4 linked regions of the Homo sapiens genome follow. The main gene of each other region encodes a partner of the protein of the gene in region 2 in a complex. Each region holds a gene or a part of one and is shown on either strand. Other genes may lie near its edges. The genes, in order: SMARCD3, ARID1A, DPF3 and PHF10.

Evidence for each region.
Region 1: ARID1A (region 2) and SMARCD3 share a complex: the UniProt entries of both Homo sapiens proteins name them as parts of the neuron-specific chromatin remodeling complex.
Region 3: ARID1A (region 2) and DPF3 share a complex: the UniProt entries of both Homo sapiens proteins name them as parts of the neuron-specific chromatin remodeling complex.
Region 4: ARID1A (region 2) and PHF10 share a complex: the UniProt entries of both Homo sapiens proteins name them as parts of the neural progenitors-specific chromatin remodeling complex.

Annotation. Positions count from the first base shown.
Region 1 is NC_000007.14:151,238,672-151,245,706, forward strand, and holds the end of SMARCD3 (SWI/SNF-related matrix-associated actin-dependent regulator of chromatin subfamily D member 3), read right to left. Parts: intron 7,001-7,035; coding exon 6,789-7,000; intron 5,031-6,788; coding exon 4,988-5,030; intron 4,173-4,987; coding exon 4,050-4,172; intron 3,933-4,049; coding exon 3,810-3,932; intron 3,562-3,809; coding exon 3,466-3,561; intron 3,308-3,465; coding exon 3,206-3,307; intron 2,983-3,205; coding exon 2,821-2,982; exon of another isoform or gene 2,493-2,820; intron 2,309-2,492; exon of another isoform or gene 1,852-2,308; coding exon 1,754-1,851; exon of another isoform or gene 1,639-1,753; coding exon of another isoform or gene 1,577-1,638; coding exon 1,441-1,576; exon of another isoform or gene 1,348-1,440; intron 1,082-1,347; exon of another isoform or gene 1,076-1,081; coding exon 953-1,075; intron 827-952; coding exon 725-826; intron 486-724; coding exon 432-485; 3' UTR 109-431; downstream 1-108. Other genes in the region: CHPF2 (chondroitin sulfate glucuronyltransferase), read left to right, coding at 1-10. UniProt on the Homo sapiens protein: Involved in transcriptional activation and repression of select genes by chromatin remodeling (alteration of DNA-nucleosome topology).
Region 2 is NC_000001.11:26,691,494-26,699,049, forward strand, and holds the start of ARID1A (AT-rich interactive domain-containing protein 1A), read left to right. Parts: upstream 1-4,521; 5' UTR 4,522-4,723; coding exon of another isoform or gene 4,724-4,910; coding exon 4,911-6,047; intron 6,048-7,556. Other genes in the region: translation initiation factor IF-2-like, read right to left, coding at 3,786-4,472, 4,724-4,912. UniProt on the Homo sapiens protein: Involved in transcriptional activation and repression of select genes by chromatin remodeling (alteration of DNA-nucleosome topology).
Region 3 is NC_000014.9:72,608,524-72,611,126, forward strand, and holds the end of DPF3 (zinc finger protein DPF3), read right to left. Parts: 3' UTR 511-2,603; downstream 1-510. UniProt on the Homo sapiens protein: Belongs to the neuron-specific chromatin remodeling complex (nBAF complex).
Region 4 is NC_000006.12:169,707,499-169,714,533, forward strand, and holds part of PHF10 (PHD finger protein 10), read right to left. Parts: intron 5,042-7,035; coding exon 4,888-5,041; intron 2,894-4,887; coding exon 2,738-2,893; intron 1-2,737. UniProt on the Homo sapiens protein: Involved in transcription activity regulation by chromatin remodeling. Belongs to the neural progenitors-specific chromatin remodeling complex (npBAF complex) and is required for the proliferation of neural progenitors.

The sequences.
Region 1 (7,035 bases), on a different chromosome or scaffold from region 2:
TAGCACTTAGCCCGCCTGGGGGCCCTAACCTCATTACCTTTCCTTTGTCTGCCTCAGCCCCAGGAAGGGCAAGGCAAGATGGTGGACAGATAGAGAATTGTTGCTGTATTTTTTAAATATGAAAATGTTATTAAACATGTCTTCTGCCAAACTGTTTTTAGGTCTAGGGAAAATTGAGTAAGGAGAAGAATCCAAGGGAAGGGAATGGGGAGTCGTCCCGAGGGACCCACTGCCTCCCCACCTTCTTCCCTTCCCCTTCTCTCCCCCTCCCCTCCCCAGTTTCCAATGACCACACGGCTGCTGTCAGATGAATGACTTTTAATCCAGCCCCACACCCCAAGGTGGCAGAGGAGTGATGCTGGAGCCCGGGGCAAAATGCTGGGGCCCGGGACACGGCTGAAAGTTCCGTCGTGCTGCTTATTTTTGGGCTCCTAGGTGTTGCGCACAACCAGCGACTGCTCCAGCTCCTGCCTGCGCTGCTGGATCTTTAGAGGAAGTGAGAACAGGAGCAGGTGTCAGTGTTCTGGTGAGTGATCAGGACAATCCCACCTACTGACACCGCCTGCCCTGAAAGAGCATCTGGGAGCAGGGAGGGCCATTGCATGGTGAGGCAGCGTGGTGAAGCTTTACTGTGGGGAGCTGCGAGGGCTGCCCACAAGCTGAACAGGGAGGTTTCTCTTGGAGTTGAGGATGGGGAAGCCTCAGGGCAAGGGTCCCTGCATACCTTGCAGTAGAAGTAGCGACTGACGGCCTCCTGGGACCAGGGCTGGTGGTAGAACTCAGCCCGGCGCTCCTCTTCAGGGTTGCCGGCTACATCTGTCATCACCTGGGAGGGAGCGTGGGGTGAGCCCTGAGCCCTGAATCCCCTCACCTGCCCCTGGAGTACAACGTTTACTCTCTTTCCCGCTGTGCTTGTCTTCCACTCCAGTACTCCCTGAGTCTCCCTCTTCACCTTGAGGTCCCGGCTCTGGGAGCGGAGCAGGTCTTGGACATAGCCTTTGGGGTCTCTGGAGAAGCTTAGCATGAAGTCCCTCTGGATCTTGAGCTGGTTTATGGACTCAATCGTCTCATGGATCTGCAGGTAGAAAGATAGATGCTTTCCACCTGGCTTTGGTGATGTGGGAGACGAGGGGAAAGGAAGCGGGTGGGAAGGGGAGGGAGAGGGGGTTTCTTCTGTGAAGGACAACCCCTCAGAGCCCCTGATTTCTCTGAAGTCCCAGGGGAGGAGGGGATGGGCAGAACTAAACTTGGAATGAGGTTCAGCTCCAAGCAGCATGGACGGGCCATGTGTGTCCCATTGGCCCAGAGTCTGGTCTCTTTTTTTTTTTTTTTTTTAATTTAACCCAGACTGCTCATCTGCAACCACACCCTGGTCTCAGAAAAGTCTCCTCTATCATCTCTGGGTTAATGTCCCACTCCAGCTCTGGGCTTGGGCCCCACCTTACTGTCCAGAGCACTGATCTCCTGCTGGTTGGCCGTGGATAGGAGGAAGCTGCTCATCTGCCCCTTTAATGGCTCCTCCACCTCCACGTCAATGTCATAGCACGCCGTCTTCTTCTGGTCTGAAGGGTCCACGCTGCCAGGGAAGTCCAGCCCTTCGTGTCCACGATGCCCCCATACGGCCCCAGGGCCCCGGGGCTGGGGCAGATCCAACAGGGAGGGAGAAGAGATGGGAGTGGGAGGAGAGGGAGGGGCAGGGAAGGCAGGAACGAGATCATTCCCTGGTCTGAGAAGCAAGCTGGGGCCACCTCACCTGATGACATGGTTGATGACAATTGGGTCAGGGGGCAATAGCAGGGCTGTGAGGCGCTGGGGAATCTCAGAAAACTTCAGCCGGGGACAATCAAAAATCTGAAGCAGGACAATTGGGGAGAGAGAGATCACTCTTCTTGAAGAGATCATCATGCAGTTGTAGATCCTTTTGTTCTAGAAAGGCCACAAGAAGCTGAGAGGAAGTCTGATTCCTCAGTGCGCATGGGGATGGGATTGGGGTGGGCTGGTCTGGTGGTGGAGCCACCGGTATGGCTGACAAGATAGGGGGTGGGTCAGTGTGGGGCAGGGGTTGAGAGTGCGGGCCCTGGGTCAGCCTGCTTATGTATCAGTCCTGCCTCTGCCACTTACTATGCAACCTGGAGCAAGTTAACACCTCAGGGCTCAGTGTCTTCATCTCTAGAGTGGGGATGAAAAGAATACCTATCTCCCAGGGCTGCCGTGAGAAGTCAGTGAACTAATACACATAAAGTGCTTGGGACAGTGCCTGGCACATGGTAAGTGCCCAATAAATATCAACTGCTATTTTTACTCCTCAGGTTTATCTGCTGTATTTATTTTTAAATGCATTAATAAGAATATTCTCTGTTTTGGTGGAATTTTGCTCAATCACTTTTGCAGCAATTTGATTTTCCTAACTGCCCAGGAGAGTAGATAGGACAGGTATTGTCACTCCACTTCAAAGATAAGGAAACAAGGTTCAGAATCGCTGAGTCACTTACCCAGAGTCCAGACTCAGGACTAGAACCTGGGGATCCTAACTCCAAGTGCCAAGAATATTACATTCCAGAAAGCGGTTGGCTTTGTAGGGTTTCCAGGTCTTCCTAACTTGGGGGGGCTAACATGGATTGGCTGCAGCACAGAGCTAATCCACAGTAGGGCCTGAACTAGAATCCTGGTCGGTCTCTTGGCTCCAAGACCATGACTGTGTACTGCTTCTGCTACTCAGGAATCTAGAAGGGAGGGGTGGTAGTTACCTTGGTAGAGGTACTTCCCCTGCTGGAGAACTCCGCCTGCTCCCCAGATCCCAGGGTTCAGGAGAGAGGTTACCTGCTGGAAATACTTGTCCCCATTGATGTATTCCTTGTCATGGGAGTCCTGCAGCCTGTTGGTCTTCACATACTGCCACAGGGCCTGGACAATGGCTGAGCGGCTCTGTGTGTGCAGCCCCAGCAGCCGGGCTAGGCGGGGATCCAGTTTGAACTGGGGAGGCTGGGAAAAGGGGACTGTGAAAGTTAGACCAAAGGGAGAGAAAGGAAGGAGCCCAGGGCCAGGCCATTCAGGACTAGGGGGATGTGTTGATTGAGGAAACATGCCCCTGGGGAAGGATAGGTTTGGGAGGGGAAGGAGGTCTCTCAAGATGCACCACTTTGGGACCTAGCCCTGCCCTGAGGGCCTTGTGTGGCGTGTACGGGGCAGCATGGCAGGTGCAGACCTGGTAGTCCAGCATGAGGAGCAGCGTGCAGCGCACACTCAGGTCCCCAGGCCGTTTCACCTGGAAGCCGTCCGTCTCCTGGGTCGTGGGTGTCCGATGCCACTGTCCAGGAGAGAAGAGCTGTGTCTCCCAAAGGCCCATCTGGAGTGGTGGGGCCCAGGACTCTAGGGTGGTCCCTGACCCAAATCTGTGCTGGTTCTTCAGGGATTCTGGCCTGTGGGAGGGTGGCAATTCAAGGGCGGAGGGGCTCTTGGTCTTACCTCAACGAGGTGGTTGTCAGGGCCATAAAGATCTTTGTCCAGCTCGATGACCAAACTCTTGAAGAAAGAAGAGAACTTCCGCTTCTGTTTGCTGGGCTGTGGGAGAGCAACAGGGACCATGGGGGCAGAACAGGGACGAGGTGGGAGGAGCAGAAGGAGGCCAAGTTGGCAGCCGACAGGGCAGTGGGCTTAGATGAAATCCTCTGCACTTGGAATGTCTCTAGGCCTGCCCCTCCACCCAGCCTGGGCTGACTCCCTAGCCCTTAGTGCAGACACCTTGTTCTGTTCTCAGTGCAGCCCATGCCCACCCCAGGACACCTGGAGAGACCTGGGCCGGGACGTACATCATCCAGGAGCTTCCCCTCCACCCGTAGCTCCCAGGAGGCAATGCTGCCGTCGGAATCCTCAGCATCAGGCTTCGCAGGGTTAAAAGTGTTGGAGATATAGAGTCGCAGCTTCCGCTTTTGCTGTAGAAATAGAGTGCAGAACCGGGCGAATGCTGTGTGCTCCCACCCCGACCACCCTGCTTCCCCATCCTGGTCACACAACTCTAGAGTCCCCTTCCTACCCCCGAACTAAGGCACCTTCATGGGCCTCTTCAGAGCCTCCTGGATGTCCACCCGCTTCCGCATGATGGTTTGATCCAGTTTCCTCTCAAATGCCAAGAGGTCCATGTAAGCCTGGGACTCGGGGACCAGCTCCCGAATCTGGAGAAGGAGGAGCAGGGCAGGAGTCAGAGGCTCAAGTCCAGGGTTGTACCATGGAATGTATGCATGTTGTGCAATCCTAGGGTACAAAAGATGTCAGGGGAGCCATCCTACTTTTGGGCATGTAGCTTTGACAGTGGGAACAGGACCTCTCCCCAGGATGCCATTATCCAGCAGTAGGGGCCTTGCTGTGTAGGGATAACAATTGCTTCTCCCTTTAGGAAGTGCCTTGTGTTTCATCATCAGGGAGGAGGTAGCAACGGTGGAGCTCAGCAAGCACTAGCCTTTAGTCTCCTCATCTTGTCATTGTCCATATCATATGCCTGCTGGGCTTCCCCTGGGCCCCTGCAAAGTGCCTAGTAGGGGCTCAATCCCTGAGACAGTTGGACAGCGGTGCTTTCTTCTCTGCTGGCACCTTGCTCAGCCCCCACACCTGTCCCAACTGTGCTGTCCCCATACCCAGCTGGACCTGGGTCTCTTTAGGATGCTCAGGATCTCTGGCCACCTTCTATCCCCTTCATTCTGCCTGGCAGCTTCTGATCCCCTAGCTCTTGCCCCCTCCTGGTCCCACAGCTCTATAGTACCACTTGGATCAAACCCCCTGACAGGCCCCTGTGTTCTGGCCCCAGTGGCTCTGCTGCTTCCCTCCACCTCACCCCCTCCCTCTGGCCTGCGGAGCCTCACTTATTAATGAGCTTTTTTAAACAAAAAGTGAAAGTGACTGTGATGCTGAAGCTCTGCTTCTGAGGGGGGAGGGGAGGGCGGAGCAGCAAAGGGTGGGGGGTGGGCTGGGGGCTGCTGTGAAAGGCACTCACCCTTTGAGGGAGGATTTTGTCAGCCATCTTCCTCCTCTTGGCACTGTACATTTTTTAAAGAAAAAACCAGGTTACCATGGCGACAGATCTGGGCGTAACGAGGCCACCTGCTAGATTATCCCGACATCTCCGCCCGCCTGGCTGGGGTTCCCACAGCCCACTTGTCTGCCCGCCCAAGGGCTGTGACGGTGGTGTGTGGAACCGGTGCTCTGTCCTCTCTCAGGACACAGGAGTGACCCATCCATTCTCTGGCCTGGGAGCCCCCTTCTACCCTGCCACATCCTCAGGGACAGAGAAATTTAGACAGGAGGGACTGGCTGGTGGGGGCGGTGCTGCCAAAAGATGCGAGCTGCAGAAGTGTTTGAGGAAAGGTGGGGATGAGGGAGGACAAAGGAGAGGGAAGCCAGGTTCTGAAGACCTTTTCTGGAAAGCAGGGGGTGCCCTGTCCAAAGGGGCCTAAGCTCAGAGGGAGGGAGAGAGACGAACTCCTTCCTATCCATGGAGCGGGAGGTGACGGTGTGAAGCTGGCGGGACTTGCACCCCTTCCAGCCACCCTGGGCTTGGAAGAGAACGCTGATGGGCTGGGGGTACTCATGCCCTGGGACTACCTGGCAACAGGGTGAGGGACATGCTGCAGCCATAGGCGCCCAGAATGTGCATGGGTGTGACTTCAGGCTGAGGCCAAATTGACTAGGCCCGGGGTAGTAGCAGCTGGATGTGGGCTCTTTCTGACCCACTAGCTGCTTCTAACTAACCCAAAAACCCCCAGAAAAACCTTGGCGGGTCAAGAGATGAAAACGCAGCCCAGAGAATAGCTCCATACTGCCCCCGTGTGGTGTTCTCAAGCACTGCCCCCTCCCTATGCAGAAATCTAAGGCTAACAAGCGGATTTCATTAAAGGTCTGGTTTGTTTTAAACAGATTATCTATGTGTAACTCTCCATTTATACAAGATAAATCAGGGAATTACCATTTGCTGTACAAAATGACGATGCACTTTACTAAAGAATTCATCATGGGATTCCTATAAGTGGTGATTTTTTCCCCGATGTGTAAAAAATAATAATGAGGTAAAATTGATATTACACCTTTTATAGAAACCCATCTGTTGTGCAAAAAAAGCATGTGTATTTGGCTAAATACTGAAACCCGGAGGGGCACTGCTGTTGCCAGGAGCCAGCAGGGGCTTTGAGGGTGCCACCAGCTGCTGGAGGAAAGCAAGGAAATGGGCTGGCCCTGGTGGCTTGAGAGCAGACCTGGGCCAGAGTGCCTAAGAATTAAGAGCAGGACTGGGTAGAGACCACCTACCCACAGGGCAAATCCCCAAGCTCCACCCCCATGGTCAGAGAGTCCCATTGAGAAAATCTGGAGTGGCTTTGAAACAGCCCGGGGGCCGGCAGGAAGGCTCAGCGGAGAACCACACTTTGGGGAACACAGTCCTACACCTCTGCCCTCAGTCCCACTGGAAGCCCCGCCCCCACCCCAAAGACTGAAGCATCACCCAGAACCTGATGGGTGGAGAGAAGGACTGAGCAGGTGACAAGGAGAAGGGTGAGGGGAGCGTGCAGGGAAGCGGTACCGGCTGCCGACGCCGCAGCCTGTCTCTACCGTGGGCACACAAAAGAATCAGGCCGGTGCCCCCTAAGCCTACCTCCCCAGAGGGCATTCGACCCGGGAAGCCTCGCTCCCTGCTAATCATTCTTCCTCGCCCCTTCCAATCCCCGCTACTCGCTTACCTGGTCCCTGCGGGTCCCCCAGGGCCCGCCCCTGCACGCCCCCTCCTCGCCGGGCCTCCCACTCACCTGCGGCTCCGCGCGGGGGCGGTGGGCACCGGCTGGCCCTGGCTCTGTGCCTGGCTCTGCCCGGGCGGGGGCGCTGCTCGCTTGCGGGCGGGCTCCATGCCCGCGGGGGCCAGGCCGGGTCGCACGGCGGGGCTGCCCATGTACGGGGAGCCCGGGGGGCCCATGGGCGCCCCCTGGTGGGGCATCCGGGCTCCAGACGGCATCCCGGGGCGCTGGGGGTGGGCGGGGGTGAAGCAGAAACGGGCGC
Region 2 (7,556 bases):
GACCTCGTGATCTGCCTGCCTCGGCCTCCCAAAGTGCTGGGATTACAGGCGTGCGCCACCACGCGCGGCTCAAGCTTTAAGTAGGTTTTTCATACAGTATTTTTTGTATTAGTTGGTGAATACAAATCTTCAATGAGCTCAGCAGAAATAAGAAATCCAAATTTCCTGATCTGCCCAGTGGTTTTATGAAACCCCAGTCCCGTTTTTTTGTTTTTTGTTTTTTTAAAAAATATTAGTAGTAGCTTTACTCAGTCTTTTCCACAAAAATAAGCTCACTGGTCAGCAAGCTCACCAGTGAGACTGGTGAGTGAGGCTGTACTTAGAAGAATATGAAAGCCTTGGTATCTTTTTCCTCATATTAGACTGGCCCTGGGTGTTATTTTTGTTTGAAACCTGCCACAAGCCAGACCAGCCTGGACTTTTACTTATTTTATTTTTTATTTCAGTTTTGGTGGAGGTGGTGGTGAGGGTAATTTTTAATTTATATTGAGACAAAATAAGCTGGCTGACTTATGCCTGAGGCTCTTTTTTTCACAGCTACTTTGGGGAAAAAAAGTCTCATTCAGAAATTAACATTTCTCAAAATGTGTTCCTTATTCTGAAATATAAATGACCCCAAATTGCTTAAGAGTTTGAGATGAGTGGGGAAAAGATCTAGAAAAGCATTTATTGTGTGCCAACCAAGTTTGAGGCCTCCTGGTTTGCTCCTTTGGGATTCTAGATCCTTGGCAGTCACAGTTTTACCGCGAAGAGCTGTTGAATGCCATTCCGAGTTCATTCCATTTTTCTCCGTGTGTGCATCCAGTTCGTATTTTACAGCTCCCGTATGGGAGCCGGTAACATAATGAATTGCCTTGACTCTCGCTTCAATCCACTTTCCTCGCTTAATATGCAGCCCAAAGTTTTGCAGCTCGCTGTCAGATGGTAGTGCTAGACTTTCACACCGATCCCAAAGCCTCCGCTGGGGCTGTTTCTTAACACGGAGTTACAAACTTTAAGAACAGACAGCTCCAGACGGAAATCCACGCCAGGCTTTGAACTCTGCTTCTGGCTTCCGTCAACTGACATAGTTGCCCTTTTGCTCAAACTCGCAGCTCCAGTTCGCACTCGAGAGAGCTCTGCTGGGTGTCTGCTGCTGTTCCGCGGCGGGAACGTGTGGGGGCAACAACCTGGCGCTCCAGCGATTCTCCACGCCTTAGTTAGGAATCTAAGCAAACCCTCGCTAGGGTCCCTGGGCTTAAGACGACTTCTCCCACAAGGATTGGGTGGAGGAAGGAGCCGAGCCCGATCTTCTGTTTGTTTGTTGAGTTTTGTATTTCAGACATTTAGGGGAAGCAAATTGCGAGAAAGGAAGGGCTGTCTTCCCTGCAAACGTTTCCCTCTCCTAGCAAACCCTCCAGGCCTCGGTTCCACATTTTGCAGTTGACTCTCTGGATTTTAATAGGTTGTTCCCTTGTCCTCGGGCCCAATCCATGCACGCTGTGCAGCCGGATAAAATGGGAGCACATCCTCTGCCATTTTCAGCCGGTTTGTCCTGGCAGCCCTGCCCCCTTCCTTGGCTGCTCTGCCGCTGGAGTTAATACGCCCAGAAACTCCGCCTGATCCTCCAGGCCTCAAATCCAGTCCGCGTTTGCTAAGTGCCGTGCGGTCGGGGACGGCGATAAGAACTCTCCTGTGAGGGAGAGCTAGCGAGACTTTAGTCCGGTTTCCATGTCAACGATTCAGTCCATATTTGCCATCAGGCTGTTGGCCGAGGTGCTTTCGCGAGGGTAGCGCTGTCCTAGTCCTAGTTCTCCAATCTGCGCCGGGATTCCTGAGCTGCCTGGGTGTGGGGTTAAAAGGCAGGGGCCGTGGGGGAAAAAACTCCACCGAAGGGAGGACCCACTGCCCCCAGCCGGGGTCTCGCTGCTCGGGCCAGCCACGTGCCCAGCTCCTCCCCTCCCCCGCTTTCCCGTTGCCACTGCCCCTAGGGAAAGCTGATGGGCCAGTTTCTAAAAAAGTTCCCTCAGCCCAACATTTCCTGGGATCGTGGTGTGGGGCTCTAAAAGTAAAAGTGGAAGAGAACCCTAGTGAATTAAAAAAAAAAAAAAGTAGAGAAATTCCACATTATCTCCTCCAACCCAGGTGGATAGATTTTTGTGCACTTTACCTTATTGCTAGAGAAAAATGGTGACTGTTTTCAAAACAGCTTGCCCACGTGTAGGGAAGGAGATTTTTGGCGCTTTCCATATTTCACAGCCATTGAAGAAAGGGGATGAGGGCTTTCTTTGGAGAGAAATCCATTCTAGCTTCCAGATTTTCACTGGGCTCCAGGTTTCCCATTACACCCCAGCTCTAAGGAAAATGGCAGAGTAATGGCATGTAAAAAAATCCTCATTTGTGTGCAGGACTCAGGACTGTTTGCCAGCTCAGGGGCAGTTGATTAAATAGCCAAGCTCTATTTATGAGGCAGCCTATAATTTGGTTTCTAGGACCTAATGCACCGGGGAGAGTTGTTGCCCCTGAGGACTGTGAGTGAAAAGAGGGCACTGGCCCATACCAGTCAGTCGGATCTTCTTGGTAGGCTGGTTTGGTTCTTGGCTTGAGGCCGGGGGAGGGGAGAAGAATAAAACTGTGGGATTTTTTTTTTTTTTAAATCTCATCACTCTTAGATTAACAGGAAGGTTTTGCCTTTCTGGTGTAGGATGCAGTAAGTTTTCTTGGGGAGAGAAATGAGTTCAGGCTTTGGAATTATTCATAGTGACCAGGGACATTGCCAGCACTCCCGGGTCCTGCATAATCTAAGATAATGCTCCTGTGGCCATGAAGTCTCCCTTTACAAAATCTGAGGGGGAAAAGAGATCCTGGTGTCTAGGAACACTGGCCTGGGCCTTTCCCAAGGCAGCCTTGGGTCTGGTGAGGAGCTGGAATCCCCTCTGGCTTTTGTAGCCTGTCATATCAGAACATTCCAAGTCAGCCTGAGGAAGAAAAGGCTGCTGCTGGGATTTGGTGGGGCCTGTAGATCAGGAGAACACTGGAGCTTTCTGTGTATGTCGATCTTTTCAGATAAACCTGGCCTTCTACCCAACTCCAGCTCAATCGGGGTCTCTTAGAATGTAATGGTAAACTTTAAACAATCTTTACGCTACAGGATAGAAAACAAATCTGACAAGCATCCATTTTCTAAGTGACTTGTTGGACTGTGCCTTTTCTTCAAGGAGAAAATGGTTTCCATTTTCTGCATCTCTCTTCTGTAATGGTTTGAACACTCAGGTTCCTGCAGTCCCTGGAGCCTCTTCTGTGGGTTTTCAGTATTAGAAGGTACTGTCTTTGGAGACTGGGGCTACTTGTCATGGTAGGCTAAGTTTTCTTAAGAGGGAGTGAGAAACGGTGTTTAGGTTTTCCTGCTGGGTAACTGTTCTATGCTCCTAAAGCAACTTCAGTGGCCTCCATTTTAAGTTAGTGGTGAGATGATCAGTTTTGACTTCAAATCCATTTTGATATTCTGATCCCATTGTTGAATGTGCTCACAACTTGATTTTTTTTTTTTTAAAGGCAAGTAGACCGAAGGCAGCTTTGGTGACTCCACTTCTTTTTAAAGTCACCCTCCTCTGCCCTCTGACTTTAAGTGACAGGCAGTTCCCTCCCCTCTCTTTCAATTCTGTAAAATGGGGATAATCCGGACCTCATGCCCCCAGAGCCTTGTAAGGACCGGCTAATGAGGGCAGGCGAGTGGGAAACGAATCGTCTGAACAATGATCAGTCATTCTTTCGGGCTTGCAAAGAGGGTAAAAAAGGTTGGGTCTTTAGCGGGGTCCGTAGAAGGCTTTGAAGACGAAAAGTGCTGTAGAGGTGCTAAGCAGCAGCCAACGGACCGGGCCCGCTGCCAGGGGGTCAGGGCTGGGCCGAGGCGGCCGCGGTCTCAGGCTCTGGCCAATTTTGCAGCCGCGGGTAAAGTTCACGCTGCCCGCTCCCCTCGGTACGGCCGGGAGGGGACAGACCTGGATAGGGACGCCGGGAGGGAGGCGGCGCAGGCTCCAGAGATGCGCGGGCTCCGGGCCGGGTTTTCTCCGAAGCCTTCGGCGGCGGCGCTGCCTAGCGAAAGCGGCTGAGGGCCTGCCGCCGCCGCGGCTTGTTCTCTCCCCTCCTCCTTTGTGAAGGGAAGGGAGCGAGTCCGTTCCACGGCCTGCGCCCGCTCCGCTCTCCACTCCGGGTTTGCCAGGCGGCCGCGACGGCGCTGGGTAAAATGGCAGTGCTGAGCCTCGTGTCGGAGTGAGGGGGACTCGGAGGAGAGTGGGGCGCTCTAGCCGCTCAGTCCGGCCGACCGCTTGCTCGCCCGCCCGCTGCCGCGCAGCAGCCTCGACCCAAGCCGCAGCTGGCGAGGGGAGGCAGGGCGCCGGGCTCGGCCCGCGCTCTGACTCTGGCTCCCGGCGCCCCGGCTGCTGCCGCGCGCCCTCCAGCCCGCCCGTCCCGGGTCCCCCTCCCCCCGCTCCCTCCCTCCCTCCCCGCCCCCTCCCCCTCGCCTCCCTCCCTCCCTCCCTCCTCCTTTCTCCGGCAGCAGAAAGCGGAGAGTCACAGCGGGGCCAGGCCCTGGGGAGCGGAGCCTCCACCGCCCCCCTCATTCCCAGGCAAGGGCTTGGGGGGAATGAGCCGGGAGAGCCGGGTCCCGAGCCTACAGAGCCGGGAGCAGCTGAGCCGCCGGCGCCTCGGCCGCCGCCGCCGCCTCCTCCTCCTCCGCCGCCGCCAGCCCGGAGCCTGAGCCGGCGGGGCGGGGGGGAGAGGAGCGAGCGCAGCGCAGCAGCGGAGCCCCGCGAGGCCCGCCCGGGCGGGTGGGGAGGGCAGCCCGGGGGACTGGGCCCCGGGGCGGGGTGGGAGGGGGGGAGAAGACGAAGACAGGGCCGGGTCTCTCCGCGGACGAGACAGCGGGGATCATGGCCGCGCAGGTCGCCCCCGCCGCCGCCAGCAGCCTGGGCAACCCGCCGCCGCCGCCGCCCTCGGAGCTGAAGAAAGCCGAGCAGCAGCAGCGGGAGGAGGCGGGGGGCGAGGCGGCGGCGGCGGCAGCGGCCGAGCGCGGGGAAATGAAGGCAGCCGCCGGGCAGGAAAGCGAGGGCCCCGCCGTGGGGCCGCCGCAGCCGCTGGGAAAGGAGCTGCAGGACGGGGCCGAGAGCAATGGGGGTGGCGGCGGCGGCGGAGCCGGCAGCGGCGGCGGGCCCGGCGCGGAGCCGGACCTGAAGAACTCGAACGGGAACGCGGGCCCTAGGCCCGCCCTGAACAATAACCTCACGGAGCCGCCCGGCGGCGGCGGTGGCGGCAGCAGCGATGGGGTGGGGGCGCCTCCTCACTCAGCCGCGGCCGCCTTGCCGCCCCCAGCCTACGGCTTCGGGCAACCCTACGGCCGGAGCCCGTCTGCCGTCGCCGCCGCCGCGGCCGCCGTCTTCCACCAACAACATGGCGGACAACAAAGCCCTGGCCTGGCAGCGCTGCAGAGCGGCGGCGGCGGGGGCCTGGAGCCCTACGCGGGGCCCCAGCAGAACTCTCACGACCACGGCTTCCCCAACCACCAGTACAACTCCTACTACCCCAACCGCAGCGCCTACCCCCCGCCCGCCCCGGCCTACGCGCTGAGCTCCCCGAGAGGTGGCACTCCGGGCTCCGGCGCGGCGGCGGCTGCCGGCTCCAAGCCGCCTCCCTCCTCCAGCGCCTCCGCCTCCTCGTCGTCTTCGTCCTTCGCTCAGCAGCGCTTCGGGGCCATGGGGGGAGGCGGCCCCTCCGCGGCCGGCGGGGGAACTCCCCAGCCCACCGCCACCCCCACCCTCAACCAACTGCTCACGTCGCCCAGCTCGGCCCGGGGCTACCAGGGCTACCCCGGGGGCGACTACAGTGGCGGGCCCCAGGACGGGGGCGCCGGCAAGGGCCCGGCGGACATGGCCTCGCAGTGTTGGGGGGCTGCGGCGGCGGCAGCTGCGGCGGCGGCCGCCTCGGGAGGGGCCCAACAAAGGAGCCACCACGCGCCCATGAGCCCCGGGAGCAGCGGCGGCGGGGGGCAGCCGCTCGCCCGGACCCCTCAGGTACACAGCTGAGTGGGGAGGGGGCTGGGGCGAGCGTGGTCCTGGGGGTGGGTGGCGGCTGCGGTGAGCGGGCCACAGCCTTGGGCTCCCCTCAGTCCCGGGCCCCCACTGCTGGGGAGCTGCCATTGTCTGGCTCTTCTCTCTTAAAATGGCTGCCTGTCTGCCTTCCTCTCCTTCCCTCCTTCAGCCTTTGTGTTGGGTTTTTCCAGAGGTGTCTGCTCCTCTTTTTCCTCTCCCCTGGTCCCTTCGAACTCCAGGGGTCTTGATGGGGGTGCGGGGCAGAGTGTGCGGGGAAGGGCCTGGCCGGGGGTGAGGGGGTGAGGGGGCGCTGGGGGCTCAGGTTAGGAGTGTAGGCAGTGGTAGGAGCCCAGGAGTTGAATGAACGTTTCTTTGCTCACCTGCCGCTCCTCTCCGTCCCCCGGCCTTCCTCTGGGCCGCCCCCCATCTGTGCTTTCAAAGAGGGCCCCTAGAGCTCGAGGGGACCTCGAGGGGAGGGCAGGGGACTGCTTGGGAGCTGCTAGAGGCCGGCTGCGGTTCACCTAGGGCAGCCCGGTCCATCTCCTGTCTTAGGCTCCGCCGGCCCAGTGGCCTGGGCTTCTCCCTGGAAGTGCTGGTAAACAGCTGAGTGATTGGAGTAGTAAGTGCAGATTGCTTTGGTTTGGGATTTGAATTATGGAGGTAAAATCCTTCTGTCAAAGCCAGGAGACAGTTGGTCTTAGGTTGACATCCTATCTGTGATCTGATTGGCTCCCCATCTCCTGCTCTTGGCCATTTATAATTGCCTCTGATGTAATGGTACAACAATCCTGATGAGCTCATAAACTTTTACACTCTGCTTTTCTGCCAGTGATAACCCAAACTATCGCTGCCACTATCTGCCTTTTATTCCAGAGCTGAAATTGGCTGTGACCTTGAGGAGGGAGGTTTAAGTAGCAATACTGTATCAGCAAGAGCAAAGCCTCAGACAGCCTGCCCTTGTTACATTGTGCCCAAACAAAAGAGGAGGCAATGGCATTTTGCTTGTACCTTGGATTTATTTTGCTTGTTATGTTTTATGCAGCCTGAAATGAATTCTGTGTTGTCAGAACAGTAGCTGAGTTTTTTCTCTACAATGGGTTTGCTGTTTGTTTTGGTTTTGTGACTTTCCTGATGGTATAAATGACTTCTTTGATGGCTCTGAAGATGCATTTATCTTGAGTAATTTTGACACTGGTTGCTTTGCAGAATTGAAATGATTTTACTGGGCTTTTTATTGAGTGGCAAATGTGGGATCTTTATGGGGGGCCAGAAAACAGTTTTTGTTATTTTTTTTAGAACTGGGAGCTTTCTGAGGAATTTTATATTAGGTTCAAGCGGTCTGTTTTAAGGAAGACTGGCCTCATTCTTTGTTTACATGTTGAATCTTGTTAACACTTTCTTTTGTTAATTGAACTTTGGAATAGCAGCTTAATTTAAAGGGAAGCTGGTGTCTTTCATGATCTTGAGGGACTTTCTCCTAAAGGCTTGGTT
Region 3 (2,603 bases), on a different chromosome or scaffold from region 2:
CTCTCTCCCCAACCATATTCCCCCACCTCTCCTGTGAGTCATCTCTGATTCATCAACCTCCCTTCTCCTAGAAAATCTAGGGGGCTCCTTTCAGGATGCCCTAGGAGCTTCTCTGAGGGGTCTCCAGAAAAGGAGCTGCTCTACTCCTGCAGATGAAGCTCTCAGTTAAGGCCTGAAGCTATGCTGCCCACTGTGCCCATGAAAGCTGTCACGGTGACTGTGGCTTCCCTGGTGCTATGTATGACGTGGCCAGAAGCTCATCACCAGGCAGCAACTGAGACCTGGAATTTGTTGCTCCTGGAGTCTCCCTGCAACCATGAAAGCACTAGTGTTTCTCTGGAGCCTGATGCACACGCATGCGTGTTTCTCTCTCTCCCTCTCTCTCTTTCTCTCTCTCTTACACAATGCAGTCCTACTGCACACCCCAACATGAAAGGGCTCTACCCCCACAGGATCTCTACATTTGCAAGTGAGGTCCTAACTATCCGTAGGGAAAATAAGAGTTTCCAAGAGTTTTAAAGCCTTTTATTTGTTTACACATTCTCTAAATTGCAGACAAAAGATTCACTACGTGGGTAGTCAACATTGCTAACCAATCACAGAACAAGATACTAACCACAGCAAGGAAGGGGTAGGGGCTTGTGACTCAGTCTTTGAGAACGTGCGAGCATTCCATGGGATATCGAGGGGTCCCAAAGAAGAAGGCTGCTCGATCCCCACATTCTTCATCTCATCAGCGACAGGTCTCCCTCCCAGAACCCCATCAGGACAGGAGAAAAGGCAGCAAGAGAGGTGGGGTGGTCCTGGCACGTGGGCCACCAGTCTTCTGAATGAAGAGTGAGTCCCGGGTCAGGAGTCCACATCAGGTGTGGGCTGCTTCCAATCTGTAGGTTCTCCTGGAGATTGTCACAATCTGCCAGCTCTCTGGGAATCACAGAACCATCATGTCCCCTTAGGATGGCAGAAGATGTGGCACAGCCTCAATCTCCAACACTGAAACACTGAGAGAGCTTGATACGTTCCTTAGGCAGGGCAGAAACATCACAGCACTTCACGTTAGGAACCACGAAAGAGTGGGAACCTGACACACGTGGGAAGGGCACATCCCCAGAGGACAGAGGACAAGGGTGGCACACACACCTACAGAGACCGCAACCACATCACAGTGAAGGAGGAGGACAGCTAACGGGGTGGGAGGTGGGAGCTTTTTGTTTGTCTGTTGCTGTCGTTGCTTTTTAGAGAAGCCAGGGTGGGCCAAATGGAGATATTGTCTCAAGACCATTACACACAGCTTCCCAAATCTGTAGCCCTTTTCTGTAACCTCATGAAAGCTGTGTCAGACTCAGTCCTGGTCTGAAGTACCAAAGCAGCCCAAGGCAAAACCTCATCTGCAAGAGGCAATGCGGCGTTGGGTCCCAAGGATCAGTGGGGAGGGTGTTCAAAAGAGCAAAAAGGGAAACCCTCTTTCATAGGCATTTCTCTCACTGGAGACCCACTCTCTTGGTCATTCCTTTATGACTGAGAGTCTCAGAAGGAGTTGTGAGTGTGAGGTAAAAGAGACAAGCAAGCATTTTGGAATGATGGGGATAAAATGTTGCAGTGGCTTCCCTCTCTGGTGCCCATACCTGGAAGAAGCAATCCCAGGTTTGCTTCGTATCTGCAGGTCTAGAGACATCAATGGAGGCAGCAATTGGAGATCTCAGTGTGTTTCCAGGGTCTCTGACTCAACTAGAGGGCATCCAAGGCCTGGTGGAGCCTGTGCAGGCCTGAGCTTCCTCGTGGAGCAGCAGGTAGGCAGCTCATTCCCAGGGACCTGGTCATCCTTCCTACCATAGGAGCCACCTGCCAAAGCCCACCCAGAGGAATCCCAGCGTTCACAAATGGAGGCGCCCTCACCAAAGCCACTGGACCAGCCTGTCCCTGAGAAGAGACACAGAGGGGCTTCAGCAATGAGAAGAAGAAAACCAATTTCTTTTGGCTTCTTAGCAGAGATGCTCCATGTCTTGGCTGTCAGAGAAATTGAGCTTACAAATTGCCCTCACCCTGAACCCACTTGGCAACGGGGAGATGACCTGGTTGAGGTCTAGTTCTGGCTTTTGTGAATCGACCGTGTGACGTAGACAGCACAGCATCAGGCCAGGAAGGCGCCTGATGAGACCGTGTTCTCAGCCTGAGAGCGCGCTCAAGGGCAGGTGGGAGATGGAGCCTTCTCAGAGCTCAGCCACTGGCTCTTGGGCTCCCAGGTTCATCCCTCAAGGAGCTGGGGACCTGAGGGCTCAGGGCCCACCACTGGCTGCCTGGGGGAAGTGCTGCCAGTCTGGTGTGGAAAGGGTCCAAGTCAGAGGCCTTTGCCTCACCCCTTCCACCAGCAGGGCCATTCAGAGAAGTCTTGGCTCAAAAGAACGTTGCCCACAGGCTTTCAAGTAGGTGAGTGGACCAAACCCCTGCATGCTTTTCAGGCTGTCACGCACTTTAAAACCAGACTCACAGCCAAGCCTTGTGTCCCTGACTACCTCCACAGAGATCACCAGAATTCTCCTCACTGGGAGTCATGTGCCATCCAGGGCCCCAGAGGAGCCTTCCCTTGGGCCACCCCCCACAGA
Region 4 (7,035 bases), on a different chromosome or scaffold from region 2:
ATACTAATAGTTTAAGTTAGATACTGGCATAGTAAATACTCTAATATCTTTCACTAAAGTCAGGGAAGTAACCAAACAATATTAAATTCTAAAAACAGAACTCCTCACAGGAGATTCTTTACAAAACAAAAGCCAAAAGGAGTAAAACACAAGGGTAGTCATTCACATTCTAGAGCAATTCAAGTTCTACAATCATTAAAATATACATTAAACACCTATGATAAAAGGGACACCAAAAAATTCTAGGTTTATTTCTAAGTTTAAATCATAATGATTTGTTAAATCACTTAGTTTTTCTTACCCAACAGCCTTCATCTTGATGAAAAGAGGGAAACATGAGAGAAGGGGAAGAGAGACAGCTTTGTAGCATTTTCTACGATGAATGCTGCAGCTCGATATACAAAGCATCTGCCCTCTCTAAGAAGCCACAGTGCTGGCATCCAGGACTTTACACAGCAGATAACAACTGTGGCTTAGAGAAGCCAGTCTCAAGTGGATTGCACAGTTGAGGGAGGGGTTAATGTGCAGCACTCTCCACAAGACCAATGGAGCACACTCCTATGTGTGTCTGGTTTAGACAATCAGTTCTACTTCAAATAACTGCAACATCATCAGAGTATCACTATTGACAAGAAAACTGAAATACTCATCCTAATAGCTCTCAGCATCTCAAATAAAAGGCTCACAGTACACTTACTTTTCTACTTGAAAAACAGCCAAAGATAAGACTTTCATGGTAGCAATAATATAGTATAGATTTTAATTATTGTATTTATAGGCCGGAATCCTAATAATTATGCTTTAAATTTCAGGTTAATGTAACCTAAACAATACTGTTCTATGAATTAAGGGCAAGCACTAGTGAATCTTATTAAGCAAAGCATCAGATACATTACTTCCTTGAATCTCGTACTTTTTATATATAAACTATGACCTTTAGCTTGAAGTACCCTAATATTTAGGCACATCTTGGTTTATTAATACTTTTTATAAAGAGGTTAACTTTTAATAAGCATGTTCACATTAATGTATGATGACTAGATACTGGTTGTTCCCATCTTTGAAATACCTGAAACATTTTTAGGTACTAAAAATGTTCACAGATTATGTAAAATATAAATTTTGCATATCCTACTTGAGTACTATTAAGTTCAGTTAATCCATATGATTTCTTGTATACTAAATCAATGATAGTGTTGAATAGCTGATTTCCAGCCTGTATTAAAACATCTATTTCAATATTCTCTCTTTTTAACCCATGATCAATCAAGCTTACTGTTGCAAAGATCTACTTAGCACTCAAGAGTTAACAGGACACTGTGCTTTGAGCGGCCACTTCCATTTAAAGCTCTTAGCAGACCAGTAGAACACACTCATTCATGTATACTGCTTCTGAAATTTCATCTTTGGAGCTCACTTGCTTTCAGTTATTAAGCATTAATTTATATAAAGAAATTACATAAGCTATATATGTAAAAACAAGTACAAAAATCACATAGCTGCAGCCTATTGCAGCCACCCTTGGAAGCCAACCCTTGCTGAATTAAGCTTAAAATTTGCTTGCTATAGGCTACAAAAAAAAAAAAGAATTTTTAAGTTAATTACATAAAAGCATTTCCTAATAAAATATGAAATACACTAACTTAATGTCGCTTTTTTTACTTGAAGAAAGGTAAATGAACATGTTAGAACGTGTTCTAGTTAGTTTGAGGGAAAGGTGACTTACTTCAGCCTGTTCTTGTGAATTATTTACCACAATCACAGTTCTGACATACAAGGTGTTTAACAATTTCACTTGGCAAAACTTTCTCATCAGCTTACTCTAAAATTTTCCTTCAATACACCTTCATAAGTGCAATAAAAGCATGTTCTAATACATTTCAGACCAAAAGAATCAAAAGGTAGTCTATTTTACTACCACCATCCCAAATATGAAACTGTACAGCTAATTCTTCCTTTTATGATATTCTTAAATCCCTATATGCAAATAAGGCTACTCATCTCTCACCTCACCTTTTCTTCAGAAGAAAAGGGAGGGGCAGACAGAGGGAGGAAAAGTTCAAAATATAATAATAGTTGCTGACAACCTACTCCTTTACTCTGAGGATAATCAGATCAACAAGTTAACAAGTATGTTTTAATTCTTGCCATAGAATCATATAGGCTCTTTACCAAGGTTATGCTAAAAATCACTACAATGTAAGTAACAGGTTTTATTATTTTCTATCCCAGAGTTAGCTAAATTTAGCATATGGATCAAATAATCCTTAGATTAAACCCAGATCTTTCTTAATGAAAGGCACTAAAAAAAATGCAACTTAGTCTAACAGTATATCCACTCATACTTTATAGCTCAGCAGCTTTAGCTACACTAAATGCTGGGGCATTTAAAATGCCAAATAATTATGATCTTTACTCCAAGGAAAGAAAATATAAACTTCTGCCTATGAAATAATGTTTTAAAAACCCATACTTGCCTGGTTATTCTTTCAAAGAAAAAAAAAGACTTATAAATTGTACATATACAGAAAACAGAAGGTAAACCATAGCCAAAAGTGACAGAAAAGCCACCAAGGAAATAAAGCAAAAAAGAAAGCAGCGGACAAAGGGCACACCATAGAAGAACAGCTAGTGAGGTACAGCAGGCAGAAGCTCCACAATCGTGAAAGTCAAGTTAAAATATTTCAGGGAGAGGCTGGTCAGTAAAGAAGCTGAGTCAGGGGCTTTTTTCTTCTACCTTGTACCCAGGAACTGACTTGGACAGTACAGAACGTTTGGGACCATCTTTTCTTGGAGTGGCAGCTTTGTCTTTTGATTTCTGTCTTCCCTGGAAAGAGTCCTCCTGGCTGTCAGGAGGGCTTTCCCCTTCAGATACATTGCCAGAGGAGCTGTCCTGGAGTTTAAAAGGCAAAAACAAAGATTCTTTGGAATTAAGACAAATTTGAGTCTGGATTTTGAAAACTATGGAAAATATTCAAAGAAAGTTTTAAAGCTTTATCATTTTAAAAATAAAAAGATCATTCTAAATGTAAGAAAGCTTTTTCCAGTGGAGACTAAAGTAAGTTATGTTAAAAATCATTCCTCCTTCTTCTAAGTATATTATATAAAACTGATTCCATATCAGTGCCTTCATCAACTTTGTTTTCTGACATAAGTCACAAAAACACAATTATCCGCTTCAGCTACTATTACGGCACACAGCTTCAACATCATTTTCCGTCACAAGGGAACATATTTGTTTCATACAAAAATATATTGTTACAAATAAGTGTGGGTATTTTCACTGAGTACTAAAAGTCATTAAGAAGGTCCTTCAGGAAAAATGAAGCGCTGCAGTTAGGAAAAAAAAAAAAAAGTCCTTCAAGTACACATTTGTGTTTTCACAATGTTAAACTATGCAGAGCCAATCCCTCAACTATCTACAACAGGATCTGAAATATTTTATATATTCAAGGTTTAAGACCTCAGTATCTGATCATTTAATTCTTCATTTTATAATTTAAAATGTTCTAATTAGAACTTTCATATAAATTACAAAAATTATAAATTAAAAAATTAGGTTATCTAGAGCCTCCCTGATAAACACACACTGACTAGAAACATGAATGTATCTACTTTATCTTTTTTCTGGGTGTCCACTTATATACATAAAGATACCGAGACTCACACATTACCCCCTACCTCATTGTGCCCTCATTTTTTAAAATACAAAACTGGATTACACTGTGTGTGTATGCATATGTGTATTTTGGTATTTTTTAAAAGCATTATGTGCATTTTCTCACAATCATTAAATATTCTTTGAACTGCATTTCTATCCTATAAATGTAATATAATATTACCCACTGTGGGCATTAAAATTTATTTGTAACTTCCAGCATAAAAAATACTGTCAACACTCAAATGGACCTTTTTTTCTAATTAAAATTTTTCAGCATCTGATTAAATCCTTAGGATAAATTCTACTAGTGGATTTGCTAGGTCAAATACTATGGAACTTAAATTGGTAAGACTGTCAAAATGCTTTCCCATAATGTTGGATTAGTTTACACTTTTCCTAGCAGTATGAAAGGAAGTCAGCTTCATCACCCTTTGCATGCCATAGCTCCCCTTTTAGCAACATGACAGGAGAAAAGTTGTGTCACCACTTTAATACTTGAACAGTATCTTATTTTGCATAATATGTATTATTAAAGATGTTTTAGAAGCTGTTGGTGACAAGGAAATAATGTCCATTCAATGGTAGCACAATCTCACATTTACATTGGCTTCAATGAAAAGTTTGAAATAGCCAGTTACTTAAAACACAATGCTAAAGAAATTCAAAGCCCTATGTCATCACTGGGATCAAAGCCCCAAACCATCATTGGGATTTTATTCTCCTTCAGGTGCACAGAATACACCAACTGCCCACTGTCTTGCAGGTGCATTTTGCTACAAAAAAAAAAGTCATACAGGAAAACCCAACAAATTGTACAACATATTACTAAACATAATATTTTCCTATAGGAAGCATAAGATTAAGCAAATGCACTCCCCTCAACTAAGAAAACTACATTTCTGTGTCAAGAGATCAAATTCTGTTTTGTTCAATATTTTAAGCTAAAGAGACAGCAAGTTGAATAAATGATTGTAAGCTAATTTTCCATACCCTTGCCTAAACTGCTCATGGTAACTACAAAGGGGCGATTTTAAGCATAAAGCTTACCAAAGGCCATTCACTGCTTGTTTTTATCAAAACATACTATAAGTAACTTTTATTGATGAATACTTTCTGGAAATTACATGCAACCATCCTTTTTCAAGGAGAGGGTGATGACAGAAATTCAATGTAACAAAAATTCAAAGAGAAAGGAAATGCTTCCTACTAGAGAGAAATGTTCTCACCGAAGTGCCTTTATTTTTCCGTTTCTCATCACCTCGACCATCTTCGCCATCATCTGAATCACCATCACTGTCTAGAGCAGGGAGCTCAGGATCCAGAGGGGGCTCATACAGGGCTGTGTTTAATGGCAGATACCGCAGCTCATCTGGTGAGTACCTGAAGTTCAGAGAGTTTATTTTTGGTTTCCCTTTATTATTAAATATAAACAGACTCATCTTTGACCTATGAAGATAGCCTTAAACTTCTTGAGTAACCCCGAAGACTTTTGAAAACTAGAGTACTAATTTTTCATTTTTGTCATCAAGTAGGGTTAATAAAAAGCCTGAACATCTTTTCACTAGACTTATGTAAAATATGCATTTGATTCTTACTAAGAGATAATGTGCCTCCCCTCTTTGCCCTCAACCCAAAAAAAGAAAAAAGTAAATAAAATGTCAGCAGCCCCAAGTCTGGCTGCCAGCTCACATCCACCTCGACCACTGTCCCAGGTCTTTGCTACTTCTCTGTGCTGTCACTCCATTTGTAAAACAGACCTAATAATAGCATCTACCGCATACAGTTGATATATATGCATTAACTTATTTAATGCATACATATCACACCAGTGCATGGTACATGATATTACTTAAAATAATAACATAGAAAGCAAAATTTTTAGTAACCAATTATTGTAAACAAATTTGGGAAGCATGTATTCTAACAAATTTAATCATCTATTTTGTCTGAAACTATATTGGCAATCTCTTCCCCTAGGTCAGACAGCACTGCTTCGTGCCACCTCCATTCTCACCCTCAGTAGCCCCCATTCAGGAGGCAACCCTAGATGAAGACTTCTCCAACTAAGACAACACACCAAAAAGCAAAGGGGTTAATATACTTGCATATGACTTTTAATAATTTGCTGATGCCAAAATAAAATTTTTAAAAATTAAAGGCCGGGTGCAGTGGCTCACGCCTATAATCCCAGCATTTCGGGAGGCCAAGGTGGGCAGATCACCTGAGGTCAGGAGTTCGAGACCAGCCTGGCCAACATGGTGAAACCCCGTCTCTACTAAATATACAGAAAATTAGCTGGGCAAGGTGGCGGGCACCTGTAATCCCAGCTACTCGGGAAGCTGAAGCAGGAGAATCACTTGAACCAGGAGGCAGAGGTTGCAGTGAGCCGAGATCGCGCCACTGCACTCCAGCCTGGGCGACAGCGTGAGACTCCATCTCAAAAAAAAAAAAAAAAAATTTGAAGAAAAACTTTTAAAAAATTGCTGCTCATGATTTAAATTTGAATTTAAAAAATCTTTTTTTATTTAAAAAATTTCTGCCCAAGATTTGACTTTCAAATGGTGTGAGTTATGATACTATATTTTAAATTCTATTCTCTAAAAAATAGTATATTATGAAAAACATACGGTTCCAGAGTAAGGCTTAAGGTTGAAGTAAAAGCTGAGACTTTAAAACAAAATGGGCTGGGCACAGTGGCTCACACCTTTAATCCGAGTACTTTGGGAGGCCAAGGTGGGCGGATCACTAGGTCAAGAGATCAAGAGCATCCTGGCCAACATGGTAAAACCCACCTCTACCAAAAATACAAATAATTAGCTGGGCGTGGTGGCATGTGCCTGCAGTCCCGCTATTTGGGAGGCTGAGGCAGGAGAATCACTTGAACACAGGAGGCAGAGGTTGCAGTGAGCCGAAATCACACTACCACACTCCATCCTGGGTACAGAGCAAGACTGTCTCAAAAAAAAAAAAAAGAATCTGTTAGCCCTGTTTTTTTCAGTTACATTTAATTTGGGAATAGGAGATAAGTAACATTTAGGGTCCATATTGGAGCAGCAGCCAGGCCAGGTCAGCAATGTGGCTGGGGCACCCAGTTGCCCATGCCTGCCCCTCTCCGCTCCTTCTCTCATCTTCTCTGCAGTAAAAGTCAGTGTTTCTCAAACTCTAACCTGCACATGAATCACACAGACATCTGTTAAAATGCAGACTCTGAGTCATAGGTCTAGAGTTGGGCCTGAGATTCTGCATTTCCAACAAGCTTCTGAGCAATAACAGTGCTTTGGACCACGGAACATACCCTGAGCAGTGAGGTGCTACAGAACCCCCAGCATCTGTCTCTAACAAACCCAAACAGAATGGGCAGAGACAGAGGCATC